Regions from separate parts of the Homo sapiens genome. Here region 1 is linked to region 2. Evidence: fine-mapped QTL for protein levels in blood plasma. A gene starts in region 2. The other region holds a variant in brackets. All regions are shown on one strand. Distances are from middle to middle.

Region 1 (14,506 bases), 15 kb after region 2:
AAATGAAATCGCCAATAATAACATTATACTTTTGGCTTAATTTTACAATTTAGTAAAAGACAAGCTTAGTTTCATCATTAAGTTAAATAATTTTTTTTCCCATAGAAAAATGCACTAAGCCTGACCTGAGTAATGGTTACATCTCTGATGTAAAGTTATTGTATAAAATTCAAGAGAACATGCGTTATGGTTGCGCTTCAGGGTACAAAACCACTGGAGGGAAGGATGAAGAAGTGGTTCAATGTCTCTCTGATGGATGGTCTTCTCAACCAACCTGTAGGAAAGAACATGGTATAAGAATCATTTCCTAAAACTGAAGATAAGTGCTTATCAAGCTTATATTGAATATATTGAAGCTTATATTGATATCTATTATTTAATAGAATTTATTTTTCATTATGTCTACAATGCAGGAAGTTGATATTACATTGCTTTTCTCAAGTACTAGGTGATTCCTTAATCCAAATGTTCTCAATCCCTACAACCCACCTACGCCAATAGTTCCTACTTTGCATCAATAAAAGGAATTGGAATGGAATAAAATGAAAGAAGCTTTTTCTTTATATGTCACTATTTCCTTTATTACAGAAGAATTTAAGATCATGTACATTATTTTATATTGTGAACCAATGTCAGATATACTTAAAAATAGTTCAATAATTTAAATATATGTATACTTTGTTAGTAAGTTGTTTAAATTGTAAAAATGCATAGACAGCACATACTTTCACAATTGCTACTGCACAAGCCTTTAGTTGAATTTTGGCCTTTGGTCAAGCACTTGTAGACTAGAATTTTAAAAACAGAAAACTGGTAGAGTTAGGTCACAAGGTGTATGAAGAAGAGAATAGAGGCAAAGAAAAATTGGGGCTATTTTTCAATTTTGCTAAGAGTTGATTTTACCATGTATTCTTAAGATTTGTAAAACCATATTTTGAGATTTTTTATAATCTAGGTTATTAAAAAAGTTTATAAAATAAATAATTTTTATAATTTTAGAAACATGTTTGGCTCCTGAATTATATAATGGAAATTATTCCACAACACAGAAAACATTCAAAGTGAAGGACAAAGTACAATACGAATGTGCTACTGGCTACTACACAGCTGGAGGAAAGAAGACAGAGGAGGTAGAATGTCTCACATACGGATGGTCTCTCACACCAAAATGTACCAGTAGGTTCTCATTTGGAATAAAATCTACTCTCACTCTGAAAGCTTTTTCTCATAGAGAAGTGTATATAAGTTGTCATGCTCATTATGTTTCACCTTTTCATGCATTTTTGCCTTTATTTTTAATTATGTTGATAGCAGTCTTTGATAATTAAAGCTCTCAAGTAGAATAAATTCATTTTAGCTCACAGAATTAAATTAGAATAAGCCTAATGATATTTAACAAATATATAAAATGAATTCATAAGCTTTTTGGCAAATTTAATTTCTATTCTAGTTATGTCATGTAAATAGTGCATTTTGTTGTAGCAGAAAAAATAAACATTTGTTTGTAATTTTATTCATTCTTTTATTTGCAGAATTAAAGTGCTCTTCTTTAAGATTAATTGAAAATGGTTATTTTCATCCTGTAAAGCAAACCTATGAAGAAGGAGATGTCGTTCAGTTTTTCTGTCATGAAAATTATTATCTAAGTGGATCTGATTTAATTCAATGCTATAACTTTGGTTGGTACCCAGAATCTCCTGTATGCGAAGGTAAATTTTTAAATTTAATACTCGCAAAATGCCATGTCTTTATCAGCTTTAATCTCTATTAGCTCTGACAAAATTCCTGTGGTCATATCTATTTTTTTTCCTGAGTCCTATTTTTAAAATAAATATTATCTTTTAAATCAGTGCTATTTTCAGCAATCTTTAATATATCCCACCTGAATAAATCTTGTTTTGTCTTAGTTTGTAAATGACTATATCTTTTAAATTTATTATTTTAAAATATCTATTATACATTTTAAATCCCTTATTATAACGAATAACTTTTCTTATTGGGAATTATTAGGACTAATTACCCCAATCTGGCAGCTTTGCAAGGATATTTTCTCTTAATTTGCCACATATTTCCAGATGTAAAAATTAATCTCCAAAATAGTGAGGTAGAAAGCAGAGAAAGCAGGAAAAGCAGAAGAATAATGCCCAGAAGTGAAAATGGGAAAAGAGGTCATCTTGTAAAAGCTGCCCAAAAATGTAATATCTATGGTCACATTTCTATTACTGGAAGTGTCCAAACAGGTAATGCAATTACCTGTCAGAAGACATCCATAGTTATTTAAACAAACCTACAATTTAATATGAGGAGGGTCCTATACTAGCAGAAGATATGAAAACAGTAATTGCAGATATGAAAAAAATAATTGCTATAATGTGACAAATGGTACAATCAACTCAGGTACAAAGTGCAGGAATAAACATTAGAGATTCTGATTGGTATGCTGTGGAATAGCATTCACAGAAGTGATGGACAATATTTAAGTTGGGTCTTAAGAGATAAGTAGCAGTTTGAGAATTGGGAGGATAGGGTGAGGCAAAGGGTTTGATAGTCATTTTTTATTTTCTGTAATATGGGATATAAGGTCTATTGACAGGCAGGTGAAAGACATGAAGGTAGAACTTGGAGGAAAGTGGTGAAGATTTGAAACAGGTGCTAGGGGAAACAAATGAGGGCTCTGACCATGGGTATGCAGTGGGATTGCCAGAACTATCATAATTCCCTAAATGCACTGTACAGTAACTTTAAAGATTTTATGATTTTTCATTTGTGCTCGACATCCTTGGTATAGTAGTAGAGAAGTAGATTTTTTAAGCAAATTTTTTTAAAGTCTATTATTCCTTATTTATTTTTTATTTTTTTGAGATGGAGTCCTGCTGTGTCGCCTAAGCTAGAGTGCAGTGGCACGATCTCAGCTCACTGCAACCTCCACCTCCCAGGTTCAAGTGATTCTCCTGCCTCAGCCTCCTGAGTAGCTGGGACTACAGGTGTCGGCCACCATGCCCAGCTAATTTTTTTGTGTTTTTAGTAGAGACAGGGTTTTGCCACGTTGGTCAGGCTGGTCTTGAACTCCTGACCTCAGGTGATCAGCCTGCCTCAGCCTCTCAAAGTGCTACTTCAAAAATAAATGGCAGACCTACTTAAGGCCTTTTATACCCTTCTCCTCTTCCAAATTAGCCAGCATGACAACATGCCTGTTTTTTCCGGTAAACAGTCATTAGGCATACAATGGCTAATATAATTCAGCCCACAACAATATAATTCAGTTGTGGGCTGAATTATATCTCTCTTACTCCTCCCAAAATATAGCCACATTCTAATACTGAGAACCATTAAACGTTACCTTACACGGTACAAGACACTTTGAGGTTAACAATCTTAAGGTAGGAATATTATCTGGAACTATCTATCCAGACTCTAAATATAATCACAAATGCTTTTATAAAAGGGAGGCAGAGGGAGATTGACTGCAGAAGAGGAAGCAGGAGATGTGACAATGGAAGCCACAGGTTGAAATGTTTTGAGGAAGGGGTTGTGAGCCAAGGAATACAGGTGATTTCAAGAAGCTAGAAAAGGCAAAGTAGCTGATTCTCCTCCAAAGTCTCCAGCAGGAATGTGGCTCTCCTGATATCTCGATTTTAGTCCAGTGAAACTGACTCTGGACTTCTGGCCTCTAGGACTGTAGGAGGATAAATCTGTGCTGTTTTAAGCCACTAAATTGTAATTCATCAAAGCAGCAATAGGAAAGTAGTGTGGTCAGTATTTTAGAGCAGGAGACTTTAATTTAGACAGACGTGGGTTCAAGAACAGATCTGCTACATGCTATTAATTTATTTACTTCATAAGTTTTAGTTTGTCTATAACATGGGAGAAATAATAGTTCCTACTTAATAAAGTTATTTTAGGACTAAAAGAGGTAATGAATGTAAAATGCCTGCTGTGTTAGTATTCTATTGGTGCGTAACAATGTCACCACAAACTCAGCAGGTTAAAACAACACAAAGAAATTATTTCCCATTGGGTGTAGGTTGGGGGTCTGGGTGCGGCTTAACCGACTCCTTGCATCGATGGCTATCAAAGCTGCAATCAAGATGTTAGCTGGACTGCAGTCTCATCTGAGGCTTGACTGGGCAAGACTTCTTCCAAACTCACTGTAGTTATTGGCAGCATTCAGTGCTTTGCAGACTGCTGAACTGAGAGCCTCTGTTTCTTGTGGCTGTTAACTGAAGGCAGCCCTCTGCCCCTTGCCTTGCAGCCGTTCTGCTTTGGAAGCTCATGATGTAGCCTCTTGTTTCTTCAAAACCAGCAAGGATAGAGAGTCTCTTGGCAAGAATGGCGTTAAAAACTGATGTTACATAATTATGTGTGCATAATCACGTACTAATCCATCACCTTTGCTGTATTTTGTGGGCTAGAAGCAAGTCACAGGTCCTACTCATGGAAAGGGGTATCACACAAGGAAGTTAACATCAGGAGGTGAGGATCAAAGGAATGCTCCTAGAATCAGTCTGCCATTCTCTCTATGATGCTTGACATGATGAATATTTTAATTTAATCTTTATTATTTTTTGTAATTATATGACTAAAGGTGCTGATTAATTTTTTCCATAAGGAAGAAGAAACAGATGTCCTCCTCCACCTCTGCCCATAAACTCCAAAATTCAAACACATTCAACAACTTATCGTCATGGAGAAATAGTTCATATAGAATGTGAACTTAATTTTGAGATCCATGGGTCAGCAGAAATACGTTGTGAAGATGGAAAATGGACAGAACCTCCAAAATGCATTGGTTAGTAACACCTTGAAGAAGCTTTGCTAAAATGAAATCTGCATGTGTAGCTAAATGGTCAGTTCTCTTTCAACTGTACCTTTTCAGAAGGACAGGAGAAGGTAGCCTGTGAGGAACCACCCTTCA[T/C]TGAAAATGGTGCAGCAAATTTACACTCTAAGATTTATTACAATGGGGATAAAGTGACATATGCATGTAAAAGCGGCTACCTTCTCCATGGATCGAATGAGATAACTTGTAATCGTGGAAAATGGACACTTCCTCCTGAGTGTGTTGGTATGTATGCTACATTTACCATCAGTAGCTAAACTTATGGTGTAAAATTTTCCATTCTGTTACTTTAATCTGAATATTCCTAGGAAAAGACCACTGCTTAGGCAAATTAGAAACACATTGCTACAGCACCTACTCTTCTGCTTTGCATGTGTGCATGTGTGTGTGCCTGTATGTGTAGCTATCTGTAGAATTTAAGTCAATGTAAAGAATTCTTAAACAAAAGTTTTTTTTGAACGCTAGTGCTAAGCACGGTTATCTGATCTGTGTCATGCCATTACCTGTAAGTTCTAAATGACAACACATAAATGACGATGTGCTTCATTAGATAAGTAAATAAGGGCATGGTGGATTGAGTGACGGGCCATGAGCATTATCTACTTCTTCTCCCCATATGTCCTGCAAAGTTAGGGTAGTGCATTCTGTTCTTGACCTTGGGTAAGTCCTGCTGATATTTTGCATCTGGCCATTCTGAACCTTATGCCCTTCTGAGACATGTCCCTGGTCTTTCATTTTACTGAAAGGCACCACCAGGCTACACTATCATTCCTGGAGACTACTCTTCCTGTCATCTATCTCATTTCTTAATCAGATCAGAGCAACATCTCCACACACATGTTTATCTAGGATATTTATTAAATAAGACAAAAGCAATGAAGGATGCTAAAGAAATAGATAAAGTGAGAGAAAGATACCAAAAAGAGGAAAAAAATTGATATTTCCTTCATGGGTCTATTGAGACCTGAGATGAAGAGGAATGAAAAAGAAGAAAATAAAAGTGGGGTAATGCCAAAGAGCAATTTTAGAATTGACCATAATCTTTAGGTTGAAGAACAGTTTCTCATTCTATAGGTTTAAGAAATGTGTATATCATAATTCCTTCACAATTGAGAAAAGAGAAAAATACGTATAGTTGTTTTTAGGTAACATATTTGCTGTCAACTCTTGCTTAGCAAATTTTAAAAATATTTGAGCTGAAAAAATTTTTCATATTTGTAATGAATTTATAAAACAATTGTCCTAAATTATATAATACAAATATCGAGACACTATAGTATGAGTTACTATAGTATATTGTTATGAGCTCATATTAATTTTAAAACAACCTCTTTTCTTAGAAAATAATGAGAATTGTAAGCATCCTCCTGTTGTAATGAATGGGGCTGTTGCAGACGGGATATTGGCAAGCTATGCAACAGGATCCTCAGTGGAATATAGATGCAATGAATATTACTTACTGAGGGGATCAAAAATATCTCGTTGCGAACAAGGAAAATGGTCATCCCCACCTGTTTGCTTGGGTAAGAAAGAGAACACATGGAATGTCTACGTTTGTACTTTTATGTGATTTTCTTACAGTGTTTTATATCATGAAAATGATGATTTTGTACAAATCTTTTTTCACAAGTGTTTTCTCTCTCATTTCTTTAAGTAGAAAGTCCCTAAAATATTAGTGTATTTTTTCTATTGTGGTAAAATATACATAACATAAAATTTACCACCGTAGCTATTTTTAAGTGTACAATTCAGTGGCATTAAGTATATTAACATTTTTGTGACCAATTAGCTTTTGGGTTGTCTTTCTCCTAGCTGAAATTCCCTCCCTGGTATACAGCCCTCAATATCTCTGCTTGTATTGCCCTCAGAATGTCATTTCAAGAAGAATAATTAGTCCTATTCTTTCCTTGGTAGAGTATATTGCTAATATATTATAGAGTATATTATATAGAGTATATTGCTAAATTTTACCACCGCATCCTCATCTGAATGGACACGTTTGTTACATCTTGTTGATTATATAAAAGTGTTTGCTAATGACTTAGATAATAAATGGTCTTCTAAATGTTTTACACACACAAGCACACACTCCACAAAATGCTATGATATGATGCAGAGGTATATATCTTAGATTTTTTCACTCAAAATATATTGTAAACATGGTTTGTCATACTTCTACAATATATACTTTAATGGCTGCATAGTATTCCATAATGCAGATATACATATGTAATTTAACCAGTTTATTGATGGATGTTTAGTGTTCAACATTTTTATATTCCAAACAGTACACTTTCAAGTAAATCTTTGTACATGTTAAACATATTTATTTTTGTTAAAAATAATTATCATGAGATCAGGAATTTTAATTCTTTTTCTATTAATTGGCAAATTGTCTATCAGAAAGTTTGTTCTGCTTTGTTAACCCTACCATAAGTGAATTAAAGTAGTAATCATCCTAATCTTTGTTAACTTTGAATATTTTAATCTTGACATTTTTTGTTAAGCAGGCAAGCACAATTATTTTAATTTGATTTATTTAAGAATTAATTAATTTGGAATTTTTTAACTTTCTAGTAGCCACAGGTTTTTTTACATGAATTAATTATTCATAGTTTAGCCATTTTTTCATACTTATAAATCTATATATAAATTATTTTATCCAATTGAGAATCATGTTTATTGCAATTATTTTTAATTTATTTTTATTTATAGTGTTTTTAAGTATATATAAGTGTATGTTTTAAGTCTTGAGCTCTTTCAACCTTTTGTTAGTAGTTTCCACCTTTCAAGTAATTCTTAGGAGTCGATTCCCATTCAAATTCAGATACAGATACATATTCACATAGAATTTTGCTATTGGTCTCATATTTTTATAAATGTTTTTGATATTAAGTTTTTGATGCTTTGGTTGATATTGCATTGAGTGGAGATATAGTAATCTCTAAGGACAAAGACTAGATTAAAATATTTATGGCAAAGCTGGTAATGAAACAAGCTCATAAGGAAATAACAACATTTAAGGAAATACATCATTCTATATCTGGAACAACTGCCTCAAGAGAGTTAGGTTTGGTCCTAATGAATCAAAGCAAATACCAAATGAAGATTAATCATTGTTATCAGGGCAAGAGAAAGGGGCTTTGTATATCTTGGTAACTATTGAAACTGGAAAGGCTATCAGTACAAATTCACAACAGTATGATAAAGCATAGAATTTTCTCTGTAGGAATTATTATTCCAGACATTAAGAGTCTCTCTAACCTCTCCATACTCTCTTCCCTGCTCTAATCACTCCAGTCTTTCTGGTCTCCTTACTCTTCCACAAACAAGCCAAGAATGCTCTCACTTCAGGGCCTTTGCACTGGTTGTTCCCTTTGCTTGGGACACTCTTTCATAAGAAAATGACATGGTTCACTCAGTCTCCTTCAAGCTTTTGTGCAAAGTCCCCTTCAAGCTTTTTTACTTCTTATTTAGGCCTACCCTAATCACCTTACTGAAAAGTGCAACTTCTCTTCACCTAGCTCTTTTGTTACCCCCTCCTGCTCCAGTACTCTTTTTTTCATCTAATTTATCTTATGCTGTAGTTTAAAGATGGCCACTGTGTTAGTCTGTTCTCATGCTGCTAATAAAGACATACCTGAGACTGGGTAATTTATAAAGGAAAGAGATTTAATGCACTCACAGTTCCACATGGCTGGGGAGGCCTCACAATCATGGTAGAAGACAAAGGAGAAGCATGGAACGTCTTACAAGGTGGCAAGCAAGAGAGCATGTGCAGGGAAACTCCCCTTTATAAAACCATCAGATCTCATGAGACTTATTCACTGTAATGAGAACAGCATGGGAAAGACCCACCCCAGGATTCAATTACCTCCAACCAGGTTCCTCCCATGACATATGGGAATTATGGGAGCTACAATTCAAGATGAGATTTGGGTAGGCACACAGCCAAACCATATCAGCCACAAATTATACAATTCATGTCTTTATTATATTTATTATGTATTGTAGGTGTTTCTCCCAGTTAGAAGGTAAGCTCCATGGGAGCAGGAGTCTTGGTTTTATTCATTAGCAGGTTTTCTATTATTTTCTACATGGTAGTTAAAGGTTTTTATTTTATAGAAAGAAAATTATTATTAATCTAACTGATTGATGCCCTTAAATAGTATTTTTGATGTTTTAAATTAAGTGGTTTTAGTTTATGACAATAATGTATAGATTCATTTGATAGTAATAAAGTATATATTTTCTTATATATATATGTGTGTGAGAGAAGCCTTAATTATGATTTCAATTATAAAATATTGCTTTTGAAACTTGTCATAATTTTTGTTTTAAAAAATATCACTTTTATATTTGTCAGACAAGTAAAGAATTTAAAAGAGCATTTTGTTTTACAGAACCATGTACTGTTAATGTGGATTACATGAACAGAAATAACATAGAAATGAAGTGGAAATATGAAGGGAAAGTCTTACATGGAGATTTAATAGATTTTGTATGTAAACAGGGATATGACTTATCTCCATTAACCCCATTGTCTGAATTATCTGTGCAGTGCAACAGAGGAGAAGTGAAATATCCTTTATGTACTAGAAAAGGTAAAATAATAATGTTCTCTGCAAGTATCTTTACTTGACCAATATCTGCTACCTCGGTTGAAAATTTATTTATAGTTTGTTGCTATTTTTCTTATTATTATTCTTTTTAATTTTGTTTTATTTTATTTTATTTTACTTTGAGTTCTGAGACACAAGTGCAGAATGTGCAGGTTTGTTACATGGGTATACGTGTGCCATGGTGGTTTGCAATTCCAGTAATGGAATTGCTGCGTCGAATTTCATTTCTGGTTCTAGGTCCTTGAGGAATCACCACACTGTCTTCCACAATGGTTGAACTAATTTACATTCCCATCAGCAGTGTAAAAGCATTCCTATTTCTCCCCAGCCTTACCAGCATCTATTGTTTCTTGGCTTTTTAGTAATTGCCATTCTGACTGGTGTGAAATGGTGTCTCATTGTGATTACACCTTATACAAAAATTAACTCAAGATGGATTAAAGATTTAAATGTAAAAACCCCAAACCATAAAAACTCTAGAAGAAAACCTAGGCAATACCATTCAGGACATAGGCATGGGCAAATACTTAATGACGAAAATGCCAAAAGCAATTGCGATGAGAGCCAAAACTGACAAATGAGATCTAATTAACCTAAAGAGCTTCTGCACAGCAAAAGAAACTATCATCAGAGTGAACAGGAAACTTACAGAATGGGAGAAAATTTTTGCAATCTGCCCATGTGACAAAGGTCTAATATCCAGAATCTACATGGAACTTAACACAAATTTACAAGAAAAAAACGAACAACACCATCAAAAAGTAGGCAAAGGATATAAACAGTCACTTCTCAAAAGAAGACATTTATGTGGCCAACAAACATATGAGGAAAAAGCTCAACATCGCTGATCTTTAGAGAAAATTTATACCTATGACCCCAATTCACCACCATCATATTCTAATCTATAAAGTTGAGAGGAGTGATCCAACTTCCAAACTTCAATCAGCATATATACCTATATAGGATGGCCATGCTGACATCTTTTAATTCCAATAAGTCAATTTTATGAAGGGAAAAAATCAAGAGGTTTTATAAATGTTGCCAGACTATCAGAGAATTGATCACCTTCTTGTGAGCACTCAACAACAAACACTGTAAAGCATTGCTCTACTTAGGGCTTTCTGGGGACCCATTGTCTCAGTACTCACTGGCTATAGGGACTATTACTTTTAATAAGGAAGAAAAGGAAAATAATATATACAGAAATCATGGCTTCTAGAAAAATCCCATATACACTTAGGGAGAAATAAAATCATGATTGTTAATACTCTCATAGTTTTAAATATGCATGTAAACACTATAACGTGGGATTCTAATTATAAAAATACATTGTATGGTATAATATTATTGCAAAAACATCTTCAATATTTTAAAAATATTTGAGAACTGCCTAAAAAATGGCTTTATGGCTAGGTGCAGTGGCTCACGCCTGTAATCCCAGCACTTTGGGAGGCCAAGGTGGGCAGATTTCTTGAGCCCAGGAATTCAAGACCAACCTGAGCAACATAGTGAGACCCTGTCTCTACAAAAGAAAAATGCACCTGTAGTCCCAACTAGTTGGGAGGCTAAGACAGGAGGATCACTTGAGCCTGGGAGGCAGAGGTTGCAGTGAGTCATGATCATGCCACCATACTCCAGCCTGGGTGACAGAGGGAGACTCTGTCTCTGTAGCACTTATAAAGTACTGGATGTTCATTATAGCAATTCATTGTATACTTTAAAACTTATTTTTGCAGAATCTAAAGGAATGTGCACATCTCCTCCTCTTATTAAACATGGAGTCATTATTAGTTCAACAGTAGACACCTATGAAAATGGCTCTTCAGTAGAATACAGATGTTTTGATCACCATTTCCTAGAAGGATCTAGGGAGGCCTATTGTTTAGATGGAATGTGGACTACACCACCATTGTGTTTAGGTATGTACTACTAAATATGCCTCTAACAAAGTAAAACTATATATTTTTAATTTGCTGTCATTTTTGAGTTAACATAACACTAATATAATGCTATATTTGCTACATTTGTGTTATTTTATTCATGTGCTTATTTTATCACTGCTTTCTATTCTTTCCTCTAGATCATAAATACCTATAGTTCAGTTTGTTGTAATACATATTTTTTTAAAGACAAACCACACATCAGGTTGGTATGGGCTATAAGTTGAATAAGCCATAGTGGTGTGAGTAAACTTTAACAATTATCATTCATTGTGATTGGTACTATAATAGAAAACATTAGGGAAACATGTATAATAGAAAACAATGCGGAAATAAAGAAATGGACAACTCAATATGGAAAGATGAAGCAAGTTAATGTTTTATTAGCAAGGCATCCTAGTAAGAGTAACAACATTTACTAAGGCCCTCAGAGGCATGAAATAGCACATCTGTAAATAATAAGAAAATATTTTTTATTTCCAATTCTGACTTTTATTTACTTCTCTTATCTTCTTTCACTGGCTAGGACTTCAGTACAATGTTGAATGGAAGAGGTAGTGGATATCTTTATTTGCTTCCCATTCTCATAAGTAAAACCTTTGATAATTCACCTCTATGTGTTGTTATAAATATTTTTTTAAAAATCAAGTTAAAGGTATAAAAACCTTTCTTTCTATTTTGCCGAAAGTATTTTTAAAGAATCTTCAATCTGTGTTTAATTTTTAGCAATATCTGTTGAAATAATTACATAATTATTACTTTTGTTTTTTCCCCTGCAAATTTAATGAATTATATTGCTTCTTTTGAATGTTAAAGCATGATTCTATTCCCATAAGAAATTCCACAAGGTTGTGATAAATTATGCATATTATATGTTATATTTTTATTTATCAATATTTTACTCATCTATTTTCATGAGAAAGACTGGTTGGTTATTTTCCTTTCTGGTTTGATATCAAGTCTGTGCTGACCTCATCCCATGAATGGGAAGTGTTCCGTCTTTTCTGGTTCTCTGGATTGATGCTATTTCTTCCTTTATAATTTTAAGAGTTAACCAGAGAAGCCATCTGGGACTTGAGTTTTTCCGTGAAAAGACAAATTGACAGCTTCGATTTGTTTAACAAATAATGGTAATTATTTCTTCTTCTGTCAGTTTTGGTAGGGAGTGGTTTCTTGATGGTTCATTACAACTACATTGTCAAATCTACTAACATAAAGTAGTTATGACATCTTCCTATCCTCTTTTTGATGTTTTTATTGATGTATCTTTTGTTATTACTTCTATTAATATGTATCTGTCTTGACATGCCTTGCTAAGGGTCTATACATTTTATTAGTGTTTTCAAAAAACCAACATTTGCATTTGTTGATTCATCAAATTTTGCTTTCTATTTTATTAATTATGCTATTATCTTTATTATTTCCTTTCTTCTATGTTCTTGGATTTCTTTTGTTACTCTTTTTCTGGCTTGTTTAGATGAATACATAGATTACTAATTTTCAGCATTTATATTTTTTCTAATACATGAATTTAAAAATAGAAATTTCTCTCTGAGCACAACTTTAACTTCATCCAAACCATTTTTATATCTTGGATTTTTACTGTCATTCAGCTCAAAAATTTTATAGTATTCATTTTGATATATTCTCTGTGCTCTGAATCATTTAGAAGTTTCTTTTTAAAGTTCTGAATATTTAGGGGATTTTCTAGTTTTCTTTTGGTTACTGATTTCTAGTTTAATTCAATTAAGACATACTTTGAATTATATCTGCACTTTAAAATTTGTTGATATTTGCTTTATAACAAGCATGTATTTGCTTTAGGTAAACGTTCTTTTCATACTTGAAAAAAGTTAACTTTGTCATTGTTGGGTTCACTGTTTTATATATGTGAATTGGATTGAGTTTTGTTTTTGATGTTTAAGTTAATCCAAAGCTGTACTGATTTGTGTGTGTTTGTTTTCTATCAATCACGGAGAGAAGCATGTTAAAGTCTCACTTGGCATTTTAAAACATTACTAATTTTAGTTCTGTCCATTTTTGCTTTTGTATTTTGATACTATTTCATTAGGTACACACACAAATTGAGACACTAAATCTTCGTATCTTGGTGTATTGGCATTGTCTAATTTTAAAAGACCTCCTTCATATATAGTAATGCTTTGCCTTTTTTTTTGCCTTGAGGTCTCCTTTAGCTGCACCAAGGGGCTTTTGACAAGCATTCATGTAGTACACATTTTTCCATCCCTTAACTTTCAACCTTCTGGGTTTTTACTTTTAGTGTGCCTCTCTTATAAGCAATATATACCTTATTTTAAAATATACTTATGCAGTTTATAATTTTTTCCCTTGTAATGGAATAGTCTATTTACATATTCATGTAATTACTAATATATTTCTGTTTATACCTACCAACCCTACCAACTTTCTATACTAGGTGTATGTTACTATACTCCATGTATATCCCATTGGTCATCTCCCTCTTTCTCTCTCTCTCTCCATATAGGTGTGTGTGTATATATATATACACATATATATATATAATATTTTAAGTTCTAGGGTACATATGCACAATGTGCAGGTTTGTTACATAGGTATACATGTGCCATGTTGGTTTGCTGCACCCATCAACTCTTCATTTACATTAGGTATTTCTCCTAAAGCTATCCCTCCCCCAGACCCCCACAGACAGGCCCTGGTGTTTGATATTCCCTGCCCTGTGTCCATGTGTTCTCATTCTTCAACACTCACCTATGAGTGAGAACATGCAGTGTTTGGTTTTCTGTCCTTGTAATAGTTTGCTTACAATGATGGCTTCCAGCTTCATCCATGTCCCTGCAAAGGGCATGAACTCATCCTTTTTAATGGCTGCATAGTATTCCATGGTGTGTATGTGCCACATTTTCTTAATCCAGTCTATCATTGATAGACATTTGGGTTGGTTCCAAGTTTTGCTATTGTGAATAGTTCTGCAAAAAACATATCTGTGCATTTGTCTTTATAGCAGAATGACTTATAATCCTTTGGGTATATACCCAGTAATGAGATCACTAGGTCAAATGGTATTTCTAGTTCTAGATCCTTGAGGAGTCGCCACACTGTCTTCC
Region 2 (14,768 bases):
TGTAGAAACATTTTTAGAGAAATGAAAAAAGAAAACATCAGAGATTACAATGCATTTCCATAAAGTTACACAAAGTTTGCCTGCCTTTCCTGCTTCCACTTCCACTTCTTCCACCTCTTTTGCCTCTGCCACTCCTGAGACAACAAGAATAACTCCTCCTTTTTTCAAAATGAAGATGACAAGGATAAAGCCTTTATGATGATCCACTTTCACTTAGTAAATATATTTCCTCCTTTTATGATTTTATTAGTTACATTTTCTTTCTTCTAGCTTACTCTATTGTAAGAATATGGTCTATAACATATAATAAAAAAAGTGTGTTAATCATCTATTTGTGTTATTGGTAAGGCTTTCAGTTCACAACATGGTATTAGTAGTTAAGTCTTGGGAGAGTCAAGTTATATGTAGAATTTTGACTGTGCAGAGAGTCAGCAGCCCTAACCCCCACTTTTTTAAGGCTCAACTTTATATGCATACAATGACATATTATACAGTCTAAAAAAGGAAGAAAATCCTGCCACTGACAGCAACAAGGATGGACCTGGAGGACATTATGTGGAGTGAAATAACTAGACACAGAAAGACAAATACTCCATCCTCTCATTTATGTGTGGAATTTAAAACAGTCAAACAAGTGGAAACAGAGAGTAAAATGGTGGTGGTTGCTAGGGGATTGCAGGGAAGAGAAAATAAAGAGGTTTTGGTCAAAGGCAACAAAGTTTCAGTTATGCAAAATGAATACATTCTGGAGACCTATTGTTGAAAAATTAGGTTAATTGAAGCATTTAAAAATTAGTAAGAAAACGATAGTAAAATGTTAATGATAGCATCTAGGTAGAGGTTTTGTGTGAAAAAAATATTTGAAAATAAGCAGATGTCAATGATTTTTATAAATTGTAAGTAACCCAAATTTACATAAATAGTTGAATGGATAAATTATGGCATATTTACAGAATGCAATACTATTTAGAAAAGGTGCTATCTACTGTATCCTCAAATGGATAAATCTCAGAACCAAAATGTTAAACAAAAGGAACCAGACATAAAAATATACATGTATTTCCCATATGATTCCATTTATATAGTATAAAACTACTGATTGATCTATGTTATTAGAAGTCAAGATAATGTTTAACACTAGGGTAGATGTAGGCAGTAACTTGGTAGGGGGATTTTGGGGTGCTGGTATATTCCTTCTTTGTTCTGGGTTGTGGATTCATGGATGTCTTAGACTTGTGAGAATTCTTAACATATGTACACTTTTCTGTTAATACATTTAATAAAAAATACAAAATTGAAATAATAATAGCTTCTGCCTTGCAGAATTATTTTGTACTCTATTTTATTTTATTTTTATTTCCATAGGCTATTGGGGGAACAGGCTGTATTTGGTTACATGAGTAAGTTCTTTAGCAGTGATCTGTGAGATTTTGGTGCACCCATCACCCAACCAGTATACGCTGAACCAAATTTGTAGTGTTTTATCCCTCAGCCCCCTTCCACCTTTCTCCAGAATCCCCAAAATCCATTGTATCATTCTTATGCCTTTGCATCCTCATAGCTTAGCTCCCAATTATGAGTGAGAACATATGATATTTGGCTTTCCATTTCTGAGTTACTTCACTTAGAATAATTGTCTCCAGTTCCATTCATGTTGCTGTGAATGCCATTAACTCATTCCTTTTTATGGCTGAGTAGTATTCCATCCTGTATATATATCACAATTTTTTATCCACTCATTGATTGATGTTGATGGACATTTGGGCTGGTTCCATATTTTTGCAATTGTGAATTGTGATGTTATTAACATCACCTGCTTGTGCAAGTATCTTTTTTGTATAATGACTTATTTTCCTCTGGGTAGATAACCAGTAATGGGATTGCTGGATCAAATGGTAGTTCTACTTTTAGTTCTTTAAGGAATCTCCACACTGTTTTCCACAGTAGTTGTACTAGTTTACATTCCCACCAACAGTATAGAAGTGTTCCCTTTTCACTGAATCCACACCAACATCTATTATTATTATTTTTTTATTATGGCCATTGCAGGAGTAAGGTGGTATTGCATTGTGGTTTAGATTTGGATTTCCTGATCATGAGTGATGTTGAACATTTTTTCACACATTTGTTGGCCATTTGTATATCTTCTTTTGAGAATTGTCTGTTTATGTCCTTAGACTACTTTTGGATGGGATTGTTTTTTTTTTTTATTGCTTATTTGTTTAAGTTCTTTGTAGATTCTAGACATTAGTCCTTTGACAAATGCATAGATTGTGAAGACTTTCTCCCTGTTTATTCTGCTGACTGTTCCTTTTGCCATGCAGAAGCTCTTTAGTTTAATTAAGTCCCATCTATTAATCTTTGTTTTTGTTGCATTTGCTTTTGGGTTCTTGGTCATGAAGTCTTTGCCTAAGCCAATGTCTAAAAGGGTTTTTCCAATGTTATCTTCTAGAATTTTTATAGTTTCATGTCTTAGATTTAAGTCCTTGATCCATCTTGAGTTGATTTTTTTTGTGTAAGGTGAGAGATGAGTATCCAATTTCATTCTCCTACATATGGCTTGACAATTATCCCAGCACCATTTGTTGAATAGGGTGTCCTTTCCCACTTTATGTTTTTGTTTGACTTGTTGAAGATCAGTTGGCTGTAACTATTTGGGTTTATTTCTGGGTTCTCCATTCTGTTCCATTGGTCTATGTGCCTATTTTTATACCAGTACCATGATGTTTTGGTGCCTATGGCCTTATAGTATAGTGTGAAGTCAGGTAACATGATGCCTCCAAATGATTTGTTCTTTTTGCTTAGTCTTGCTTTGGGTGTGTGGGCTCTCTTTTTGGTTTCATATACACTTTAGTATTGTTTTTTCTAGTTCTGTGAAGAATGATGATGGTATTTTGATAGGAATTGCATTGAATTTGTAAACTGCTTTTGGCAGTATGGTCATTTTCACAATATTGATTCCACTCATCGATGAGCATGGGATGTGTTTCCATTTGTGTCATCTATGATTTCTTTCAGCTGTGTTTTGTAGTTCTCTTTGTAGAGGCCTTTCACCTTTTTGGTTAGGTATATTCCTAAGTATTTTTTGTATTTTTTTTTTCTTGCAGCTATTGTAAAAGGAGTTGAGTTCTTGATTTGATCCTCAGCTTGGTTGCTGTTGGTGTATAGGAGAGCTACTGACTTGTGTACATTAATTTTGTGTACAGAAACTTTGCTGAATTCTTTCATCAGTTCCAGGAGCTTTGTGGAGGAGTCCTTAGGGTTTTCTAGATATACAATCATATCATCAGTAAACAGTGAAAGTTTGACTTCCTCTTTACCAATTTGGTTTCCCTTTATTTCTTTCTCTTGTCTGATTTTTCTAGCTAGGAATTCCAGCACTATGTTGAAGAGAACTGGTGAGAGTGGGCATCCTTATCTTGTTCCAGTTTTCAGAGGGAATGCTTTCGACTTTTCCCCATTCAGTATTATGTTTGTTGTGGATTCGTCATAGATGGCTTTTACTACATTGAGGTATGTCCCTCGTATGCCAATTTCACTAAGCGTTTTAATCATAAAGGGATGCTGGATTTTGTCAAATGATTTTACTGTGTTTACTGAGATGATCATGTGATTTTGTTTTTAATTCTGTTTATGTGGTGTATCGCATTTACTGACTTGGGTATGTATGTTAAACAATCCCTGCAGTATGAAACCCACTTGATCATTGTGGATTATCTTTTTGATATGTTATTGGATTCAGTTAGCTAGTATTTTGTTAAGGATTTTTATTTCTGTGTTCACCAGGGATATTGGCCTGTAGTTTTCTTTTTTTTTGTCATGTCCTTTCCTGGTTTTGGTGTTAGGGTGATACTGGCTTCATAGAATGAATTAGGGAGGATTCCCTCTTTCTCTGTCTTGTGAAATGGTGTCAATAGGAGTGGCACCAATTTTTCTTTGAGTGTCTGGTATAATTCTGTTGTGAATCCCTGGCCCTGGAATTGTTGTTGGTAATTTTTTTGTTACCACTTCAATCTCACTGCTTGTTATTGGTCTGTTCAGGGTATCTAATTCTTCCTGATTTAAGCTAGGAGGGTTGTATTTTCCAGGAATTTATTCATCTCTTCTAGGTTTTCTTTTTCTTTTACTTTTTCTTTTTTTTTTTTTGAGATGGAGTCTTGCTCTGTTGCCCAGGCTGGAGTGCAGTGGCGGGATCTTGGCTCACTGCAAGCTCTGCCTCCCAGGTTCACGCCATTCTCCTTCCTCAGCCTCCCTAGTAGCTGGGAGCTGTTACAGGTGCCCACCACCATGCCCGGCTAATTTTTTTTTTTGTATTTTTAGTAGAGACGGGGTTTCACTGTGTTAGCCAGGATGGTCTCAATCTCCTGACCTCGTGATCCTCCCGCCTCGGCCTCCCAAAGTGCTGGGATTACAGGTGTAAGCCACCGCTCCCGGCCCATCTCTTCTAGGTTTTCTAGTTTATGCATGTAATGGTGTTCATAGTAGATTTGACTGATCTTTTTCTGTGGTGTCAGTTGTATTATCTCCCGTTTCATTTCTAATTGAACTTATTTGGATTTTATTCCTTCTTTTCTTGGTTATTCTTGGTTAATATAATGGTCTATCAATTTTATTTATCTTTTCAAAGAACCAGCTTCTTGTTTCATTCATATTTAAAACAATTTTTTTTGTTTCAATTTCATTTAGTTCTGCTCTGATCTTGGTTATTTCCTTTCTTCTGCTGGGCTTAGGTTTGGTTTGTTCTTATTTCTCTAGTTCCTTGAGGTGTGACCTTAAATTATCTGTTGGTGCTCTTTCAGACTTTTTGATGTAGGCCTTTAGGACAATGAACTTTCCTCTTAGCACCACCTTTTGCTGTATCCCAGAGGTTTTGATAGGTTATGTCACTATTGTCATTCAGTTCAAATAATTTTTTAATTTCCATCTTTCATTGTTGGCCCAATGATCATTCAGGAGCAGGTTATTTAATTTCCATGTATTTGCATGGTTTTGAAGATTCCTTTTGGAGTTAATTTTCACCTTATTCCACTGTGGTCTGAGAGAGTGTTTGACATAATTTTTTTTTTTAATTTATTGAGGCTCATTTTGTGGCCTATCATATGGTCTATCTTGTAGAAAGTTCCATGTGCTGATGAATAGAATGTATATTCTGTGGTTGTTGGGTAGAATCTTCTGTATATATCTGCTAAGTCCATTTGTCCCAGGGTATAGTTTAAATCCATTTTGTTGTTGTTGTTGTTGTTGACTTTCTGTCTTGGTGACATATCTAGTGCAGTGGTATATTGAAGTCCCCCACTAGTATTGTGTTGCTGTCTGTCTCATTTCTTAGGTCTAGTAGTAATTGTTTTATAAATTTGGGAGTTCCAGTGTTAGGTACATGTATAATTAAGATTGTGATATTTTCCTGTTGGACAAGGCCTTTTATCATTATATAATGTCCTTCTTTGTCTTTCTTAACTGCTGTTGCTTTGAAGTTTGTTTTGTCTGATATAAGAATAGCTACTCCTGCTCACTTTTGGTGTCCATTTGCATGGGGTGTCTTTTTTCACCCCTTTACCTTAAGTTTATGTGAGTCCATATGTGTTAGGTGAGTCTCTTAAAGGCAGCAGATAGTTGGTTGGTGAATTCTTACCCATTCTGCAATTCTGTATCTTTTAAGTGGAACATTTAGGCCATTTACATTCAACATTAGTATTGAAATGTGAGGTACCATTCCATTCATCATGCTATTTGTTGCCTGAATACCTTGATTTTATTTATTTAAGTATTTATTTATTTACTGTATTTTTGTTTTATGGGTCCTGTGAGGTTCATGCTTTAATGAAGCTCTGTTTTGTTGTGTTTCCAGGATTTGTTTCAAGATTTAGAGCTCTTTTCAGCAGTTCTTGTAGTGCTGGCTTGGTAGTGGCAAATTCTCTCAGCATTTGTTTGTCTAAAAAAGACTGTATCTTTCCTTCATTTATGAAGCCTAGCTTTTCTGGATACAAAATTCTTAGCTGATAATTATTTTTTTTAAGGAGGCTGAAGATAGGTCCCCAATCCCTTCTAGCTTATAGGATTTCTGCTTAGAAATCTGCTGTGAATCTGATAGGTTTTCTTTTGTATGTTACCTGGTGCTTTTGCCTCACAGCTCTTAAGATTCTTTCGTCTTGACTTCAGATAAACTGATGACTATGTGCCTAGGTGAAGATTTATTTATTTATTTATTTTGAGATGGTGTCTCGCTCTGCTGCCAGGCTGGAGTGCAGTGGCGCGATCTCAGCTCACTGCAACCTCTGCCTCCTGGCTTCAAGTGATTCTCTTGCCTCAGCCTCCTGAGTAGCTAGGACTACAGGCATGGCACCACGCCCAGCTAATTTTTGTATTTTTAGTAAAGATGGGGTTTCACCATGTTGGCCAAGACGGTCTTGATCTCTTGACCTCGTGATCTGCCCACCTCATCCTCCCAAAGTGTTGAGATTACAGGCATAAGCCACCACACTTAGCTGCAATAATCTTTTTTTTTTTTTTTTGAGATGGAGTCTTGCTCTGTCGCCAGGCTGGAGTGCAGTGGCACGATCTCAACTCACTGCAACCTCCACCTCTTGGGTTCAAGCAATTGCCGTGCATCAGCCTCCCACGTAGTTGGGGTTACAGGCATATGCCACCATGCCCAGCTAAATTTTTTTTTTTTTTTTGTATTTTAGTAGAGACAGGGTTTCACCATTTTGGCCAAGATGGTCTTGATTTCCTGACCTCATGATCCACCTCCCTCGGCCTCCCAAAGTGCTGGGATTACAGGCATGAGCCACTGTGCCCGGCCGTAATGATATTTTTATGATGATTTCCCAAGTGTTCTTTGAGCTTCTTGTGTATGGATGGCTAGATTTCTAGCAAGGCCAGGGAAGTTTTTTTTTTTCAATTATTTCCCTAAATATGTTTTCCAAATTTTCAGATTTTTCTTCTTCCTCAGGAACACCAATTATTCTTAGGTTTAGTCATTTAACATAATCCCAAACTTCTTGGAGGCTTTATTCACTTAAATTTTTTTCTTTGTCTTTTTTGGATTGGATTACTTCGAAAACCTTGTCTTCAAGCTCTGAAGTTCTTTCTTCTGCTTGTTTTATTATATTGCTGAGACTTTCCAGTACATTTTGCTTTTCTCTAAGTGTGTTCTTTATTTCTTGAAGTTGTGACTGTTTTTTATTTATGCTATCTATTTCACTGAAGATTTCTCCGCTCATATCTTGTGTCATTTTTTTGATATCCTTAAGTTGGATTTCACCTCTCTCTGGTGCCTCCTTGATTAGCTTAATAATCAAACTTCTGAATTCTTTTTCTGGCAGTTCAGGAATTTCTTCTTGGTTTGGATCCATTGCTGATGAGCTAGTGTGATTTTTGGGTGGTGTTAAAGAACCTTGTTTTGTCATAATACCAAAATTGTTTTTCTAGTTCCTTCTCTTTTGGGTAGGCTATGTCAGAGGGGAGATCTGGGGCTCAAGGCTGCTGTTCAGATTCTTTTGTCCCACGGGGTGCTCCCTTGATGTAGTATTCTCCCCCTTTTCCTAGGGATGTGACTTCCTGAGAGCCAAACTGTAGTGATTATTATTACTTTTCTGGATCTAGCCACCAGAAGGGCTACCAGGCTCTGGGCTGGTACTGGGGGTTGTCTGCATAGAGTCCTGTGATGTAAACTGTCTTCAGTTCTCTCAGTCATGGATACCAGCACCTGTTCCAGTAGAGGTGGCAGGGGAGTGAAAGGAACTCTGTGAGGGTCCTTAGTTGTAGTTGTTTGATGCACTAGTTTGGTGCTGGTTGGCCTCCTGCTGAGAGGTGAAGCCAGCTGGACTTCCTGGGTCGAATGGGGACTTGGAGAACTTTTCTGTCTAGCTAAAGGATTGTAAACACACCAATCAGCGCTCTGTGTCTAGCTAAAGGTTTGTAAATGCACCAATCAGCACTTTGTAAAAACAGACCAACCAGCACTCTGTAAAATGTGCCAATCAGCGGGATGTGGGCGGAGCCAAATAAGGGAATAAAAGCTGGCCACCCGAGCCAGCCGCAGCAACCTGGTCTGGTCCCCTTCCAGGCTGTGGAAACTTTGTTCTTTCGCTCTTTGCAATAAATCTTGCTGCTGCTCTCTTTTTGGGTCTGCACTACCTTTATGAGCTGTAACACTCACCGCGAAGGTCTGTGGCTTCACTCCTGAAGTCAGCAAGACCTCGAACCCACCAGGAGGAAGAAACAACTCCGGACGCACCATCTTTTAGAGCTGTAACACTCACTGTGAAGGTCTGCGGCTTCACTCCTGAAGTCAGCAAGACCAGGAACCCACCAGAAGGAAGAAACTCTGGACACATCTGAACATCAGAGGAACAAACTCCGGACACACCATCTTTAAAAACTGTAATGCTCACCGCAAGCGTCCGCAGCTTCATTCTTGAAGTCAGCAAGACCAAGAACCCATTGGAAGGAACCAATTCCAGACACACTGCCATGAGGTAGTGCTTTCATGAGAGCATCAGCTGTGGTATATAGGGGAGGATCAGGTGGTGGGTGGGACACTAGAACTTCCAAGAGAATATGACCTTTGTCTTCAGCTACCAGGGTGGGTAGGGAAGGACCATCAGGTGGGGGCAGGGTTAGGCATGTCTGAGCTCAGAGTCTTCTTGGGTGGGGCTTGTTGTGGCTCTGTGGGGAATGGGGGTGTGATTCCCAGGTTAATGGAGTTACCTTCCCAGGAGGATTATGGCTGCCTCTTCTGTGTCATGCAGGTTGTCAGGGAAGTGGGGGAAAGCTGGCAGTTACAGACCTCACCCAGCTCTCACACAACCCAACAAGCAAATCTCACTTCTACTGTGTTCCCCCAAAAAGCACCGAATTTGTTTCCAGGCAGTAGGGGAGCAGGATTGAGAACTTGCCCCAGGCTACTAGCCTCCCAGCTGAGAATGCAAGCCAGACTTTTGTGCCTCCCTACCTGTTAAGTCTGCACACCAGATTCACGCCCTTTCCTGAGTTCTGGACAGGAAAGTTTGTGTTCGGTTGGAATTGTTACTAAGTTCAGCTGGAGGTTTCCTTCTCCCTGTGGTCTTTTCCCAGTTCCTCCGGCAGCCCCTGTGAGACAAGTCAGAAATGGCTTCTCTGGGGACCCACAGAGACGATGGGGCTTTACCCTTTGCTTCCTCTACCCCTGTATTTCGCTCAGCTCTCTAAATTGTCTGAGCTCCAGGTAAGGTCAAATCCTTCTCCTGTGATCTAGACCTTCAGGTTCCCCAAGGGTGTGTGTTCAGGGGTGGACAATACCCCTTTCACACTTTTCACAGTTTGGGCATTCACAGTATGTGGGCTATTTTCTGGGTCATGCAGGAGCAATATACTTTCTTCAGAGGGTCTGTGGATTATCTTGGCTTTCCTGTTATATCCTTGCAGCAGTTCTTGGAGCAAAAGTTCACAATGCGAGTCTCCACATCCTGCTCTGTCCATCCAAGTGGGAGCTGCAAGTTAGTCCTGCCTCCTATCCACCATTTTTTCCTATTTTGTATTTTAAATTAAAACTCATTAGAATGTAAACTCCATGAGGGCAATAATTTTAATCCAGTTTTTTCACTGCTAAATACCTCAAAACTGTTACATGTGCTGCCATTATCATGGACGTTCTAAACATTTCTCATGAATGAATGTTGATATAGCACAGTGCTGATCTCACCACCTGCCACAAAGTAAAAACTCTCTAAATGTCAAACACTACTATTATAAGTAATACTATTCTATCATTGAGACAACTATGGTTCTGTATCTCTTTAAGGAGTGCAGTCTAGGCAACAACATATTTCAACATCAGGTATCTGTTATCTCATGTTCCTAAGTTCATCTTTTTACCTGATCAATATTAGTAAAGATCTATGGCCTCAAGTGAACTTTACTCTATGAATTTACAATTGGGAACTTAGGTTGAAAATTTACCTAGTATTATTTATTCTGCTGCTATAATTTATTATTTATTCTGCTGCTATTGTTGCCCTAATCAGTTATCATGCTCTTACTGGACTCTGACATGGTAAGTAATGTCAATTAATATAGTTGTGTTATTTTAACATTATTTCAAAATATTTTAAGTGAAATATAAGACTCGTTACAAAAGGACTTAGACAGAGGTTATAAATTATTAACTTTTTCCTCAAGAGAAGTATTGTGTACTTAATGACAAGTTCCTAGTGCTTAGAATTGTTAAAATCTTTGTGAAGCACACCACTGAAGATGAGGTTGAAAAACCTGACTTTTATCATCATATTGATAATCTCAGGAGAACTCTATGCAGAAGGTAAAATTAATTCTTAATATTCTTTATTCTCTAAAACATACAAATGGAGATTCTAATATTTATACAACTCAAGTTTTAATATACTCTTCTATTTTCATTATCAATTTTATAACATATTTTATAAATATAACTTTTTATAATATTTAGACCTTTTCCTTTGAGCAAAATTAGTAAAGTGTTCTTACAGTAGCATAAGTCAGAAAAGCAAAACAAAACAAAAACCCTTGTATCTCTAGGGGGCATAGGAGACCAGGATCTAAATACTTCGAAAAGGTTTTCAGGTTAACAATATGTCCATTTCGAAGTCACATGTTAACTTTAATTCTAAATTTATGCTAGAATCCATTCCTAATACTGACAAAACTTGTACAATTTTAATTCTGTTCATAAGGTGAGAGTTTAATGTGGGAAATTTGAAAAGGAAATAGCCATAAATATTTTTTACTTTTGAGACTTTGATTTTTATCACAATGAATTATTCATTTGTTGGAGACATTAAGTAGTGATTAGTAGGTGAACCATATAATTGCTTGTACAAACAGGGACACTTAGAGAGTAAAAGAGGGGCTCTATTAATAACTGTTTGGACAACACATGTAAATCAGGACTTTCCAAACAAACCAATACCTATGGACTCCCTATTAGAAAGCTTTATAGTCAGATTGCCCAATGTGTAAGATTAGTGTGCGAGTGGAAGCTAGGCAGTGTACATGGGTATGTTGTTCAGGAACATTATCAATATTATCAGGCCATAGGATGAAGAATCCAGGGAGGACACTTAGCATTAGCAAGAGTGAACATACAAAGAAGGAAGCTACAGCAATACAGCTTTTCTAAAATAAACATTTTTGGGAATTTGTTGAAATTAAATACATAAGTTTTAACTGTGTTTTAGTTGAATAGTTAACTATAAATTTTCTACCAAAACATCTATAATTAAAATTATAAAAGTGAAAGACACAGAATTAATCTTATTTTATACTTTTAATTCTATAATAGGATGATTTTTGCATGAATTTCTTTTGATTTTATTTTTCTGTCTAAATAGGGAAATACCAGCAGATATAATTGTCTGTTATCTATACCATAAAGACATTGCAATATTCTAGTTAATTTTCTAATTATTATAAGGTTATAATGCTATTTTACACAACAAAAAAAAAAGTAAGCTGCTTGAAGACCAAGACAATGATTTTATTTTTGCATGCTTCTCTCAACTCCCATTGTGCACTTCAGGGACAAGAATTGAATTAATTGTGTTTCTCATTTCATGGTATGCAAGTATTATTGGCCTATGAAAGGTCTCACTCTTGCTTTACTTACACATTTTATCCCCTTATTCCTAATCTTGAAGTCCATTTCCCCTGGGACCTACTACAATGTTTTAACATGTTACTCTAGCTCTCTCAACCACAAATAGCTCTGGAATGAATATTGTAATATAACCAACTTATCTTTCTGTAAGAATGTCATCAGTCTGTATTCACTCACAGATAGCATTATTGAGTCTATTCTTGTACTTGATTTCTGTAATGAGAGATTACTTTTGCAGAATGGCAGTTTTGAAGTATATCATCTCTGAGAGAGGATGTAAATTGTTGCTCCTCATCATTCTCACCAACACCTCATATTGTCCATTTTTGTACTGGTTGCTATATGGTTATTCATAAAGTGATATCCCATTTTTATTTATTTACCATTCTCTGATCAGTAGTAAGTGTGTCCATCGCTTCATGTACTTTTTTTAATATGTTCAGACATCTGTGATTTCCTGGTTTATATGTGATTAGTATATTCCTCACATTTCTCATTAATTTTTTGTCAGGAATTCATATTCTCCAAGGCATTCCAGCTACCTTAACAAATAATGTGCCTATCCTGGTGGTGGAGGGAGATGTCCCAGGACAGAGAGTCTTTAAAGCCACAACCTAGGATTGTTGTGCAGAGAATACTTTGCTGCCCCTCCCTGACAAGCAACTGTGCCCCTCAGGGAAATTTCTTGTGTATTCACCATTGCACTGCTATTTTGGAAGACTCTTTTTATTGTAAATTCCTTTGGTGCTTGGGTGTGAAAAAATGGTGAGAATAATTCTCAAGGAATGGGGACTATCCAGCCCATGTTTTTCTGTCTGCTCCATCAGATAGTGGAAGTTTTGTTGCTCATCATTCCACATCCATTTCCTTCAAACCTAGGCTAGCACTACTAGTATTTTATGTCTCATAGTAGCATTAAGGTATACAGTGATCAACCAAGGCATTGAAGCCGTAGTAATCACACTGGATCTAGGCCTTCTTCCATCCATGACTGCCCATGTTTCTTCCCACCACAGCTCCTAGGATTGTTCGAGCATTTCTTTCTTTTAAGTGTTTTTATGACTTTAAGATCTTCAACATAAAGATATATTTTTAAAATATATGTTTTATTTGGAGTATAACATATCCAGAAAAATGCAAAAATCACAGGATACACTTATATAGTTTTTACAAAATTTTACACCATCCAGATCAAGATATAGAACAGTGATAGTACCCCAGAAATATGATCCTTCTAAGGCACTAAACCCCAAAGGTAACCATTCTGACTTCTATTATCATGGATTAGTTTGTTTTCTTTTAAAAAGTTATGCAAATGTATACATTAATTCATATGTGATTGGCTTCTTTCACTCAATATTATGTTTATGAGATTCACCATTTGTTCATTTCTGTTGTTGGATAATATTCCATTGTATGCATAGTCTAAAATGTGTTTATCTTTTCTATTATTTATGGGCATTTAGATTGTTCCCAGTTTGGGACTATATGAATACTGCCACTATAAGCATTTTTTTCCATGTCTTTTGGTATACAAATATGTGCTTTTTTTATTGGGTAATATGGTTTGTACATGTTTTACCCCAATATATATTGCAAAGGTGTTCTCTCATAGAGTTTGGACTGATTTATACTTTCAGTTGTAGAAATATGCGAGTTCCAGTTTCTTCACTTCTTCACAATCATTGAGATAGCTTGTCTTTTTCATTTCAGCAGTTCTATTGGATATGCAGTAGTATCTCATGGTGGTTTAAATTTTCATTTCCCTGATGACTAGTAATGCTAAGTACCAGGTCTCTAACCATTTAAATATCCTATTTTGCCAAGTTCTTGCCAAGTATTGCTTTGTTTTACTTGGTTGTCTGTTTTTTCTTTTAATGCTATTTATTTCAAAATTTTTTATGAGTTAGCATATGTTAAGGAGAAACTTTACCTATTCCTGAACTGTACTGTCCAATACAGTGGCCATCAGCCACATATAGCTATTGGAGACAGTACTTAAAATGTCACTAGTTCAAGATCAGATATTCTGTAAGTATAAATATGTAGTGGATTTTAAAGAGTTAGAAAAAAAAAGAATGTAAAATATTTTCAATATATTGGGTTAAATAAAAACCTATTATTAAAACTAACTTCAATTGTTCCTTAGTATTTTTATGAATGTGACTATTAGAAATTTTTAAATTACATAAGTGACTTACAATACATATCTATTAGGAAGTGCAGGCAGGGTGGAGTGGTTCAAGTCTTGTAATCCTAGTGCTTTGGGAGGCCAAAGCAGAAGGATCCTTTGAGTCCAGGAGTTTGAGACCAGCGTGAGCAACAGAGTGAGACCCCTCATCTCTACAAAAAATAAAACAAAAATTAGCCAGATGTGGTGGCATGTGCCTGCAGTCCTAGCTACAGGAGAGGAGGCTTGCTTAAGCCCAGGAGCTCCTGGTGGCAGTGAGCTATATTTCAGCACTGCACTGAAGCTTGGATAACTGAGGAAGACTCTGTGTCTAGGAAGAAAAAAAAAAGTACTGTTCTACGAAGTTATGCAAAGCTTCCCTGAAAAAGTGGTCTGCTAAATTTTATCATGACTGTTGGATGTTTAAAGTCATTTGCAGATCAATTATGATAAAAGGACTGCTTGAGTTGTCACAAAAGTACCTTAAAAATTTAAGTAAGAAAAATAAGTACTAGTTGAAGTGTCTCTAAAAACTTTTAGTTTGTATTGTCACCTGATTACAAATTTATGTTTTTAGATTTGTTTTTCCATTTTCAGCTTGACATTTACTCATTTCAGAGAAACCCTGTGGTTTTCCTCATGTGGAAAATGGAAGAATTGCCCAATATTACTATACTTTTAAAAGCTTTTACTTTCCAATGAGCATAGACAAAAAATTGTCATTTTTCTGCTTGGCTGGTTATACCACTGAAAGTGGAAGACAAGAAGAGCAAACCACGTGTACAACAGAAGGCTGGTCTCCAGAGCCAAGGTGCTTCAGTAAGTCAGCTGGATATGTCACTCAATGTTTCAATACTCAAAGAAATTTGTATATAAAAATAGGGGTCCAATAAAAATGGAAAGCGGTTAAACCTTTTAGTAGATAAGAACAAAATCACTAGCAATCTGTCTTTCTACAAAATGAAGGCATAATTTGAAATCCAG

Which allele goes with the higher level. Positions count from the first base shown, and alleles are read on the strand shown. Strength reflects both the effect of a copy and how common the allele is.
With allele C in place of T in region 1, the plasma level of the protein whose gene starts at base 10,200 in region 2 is lower (strong association).

The links. PIP is the chance, under the fine-mapping model, that this variant and not a neighbour inherited with it causes the effect. The UK Biobank Pharma Proteomics Project read protein levels with antibody pairs (Olink). The fine-mapping took linkage between variants from a reference panel, not from the people measured, so its PIPs are less certain.
Region 1: its variant is fine-mapped to the plasma level of the F13B protein (UK Biobank, PIP above 0.99). The variant lies in the coding sequence of F13B. If it changes the protein, the assay may bind it differently, which can mimic a change of level.

The regions. Positions count from the first base shown.
Region 1 is chr1:197,047,569-197,062,074 of GRCh38, reverse strand. F13B (coagulation factor XIII B chain) reads left to right here. Exons shown (of 12, transcript NM_001994.3): 3 at 106-291; 4 at 1,000-1,176; 5 at 1,533-1,709; 6 at 4,610-4,789; 7 at 4,877-5,062; 8 at 6,178-6,360; 9 at 9,241-9,441; 10 at 11,196-11,378. Among named protein-coding and RNA genes, the nearest start is that of F13B, 12 kb to the left of the region's middle. The variant T/C (reference allele first, on the strand shown) is at 4,916.
Region 2 is chr1:197,062,692-197,077,459 of GRCh38, reverse strand. It overlaps F13B (coagulation factor XIII B chain), which reads left to right and starts at 10,200. Exons shown (of 12, transcript NM_001994.3): 1 at 10,200-10,300; 2 at 14,403-14,603. The coding sequence starts at 10,237. RefSeq lists an enhancer at 7,893-9,092.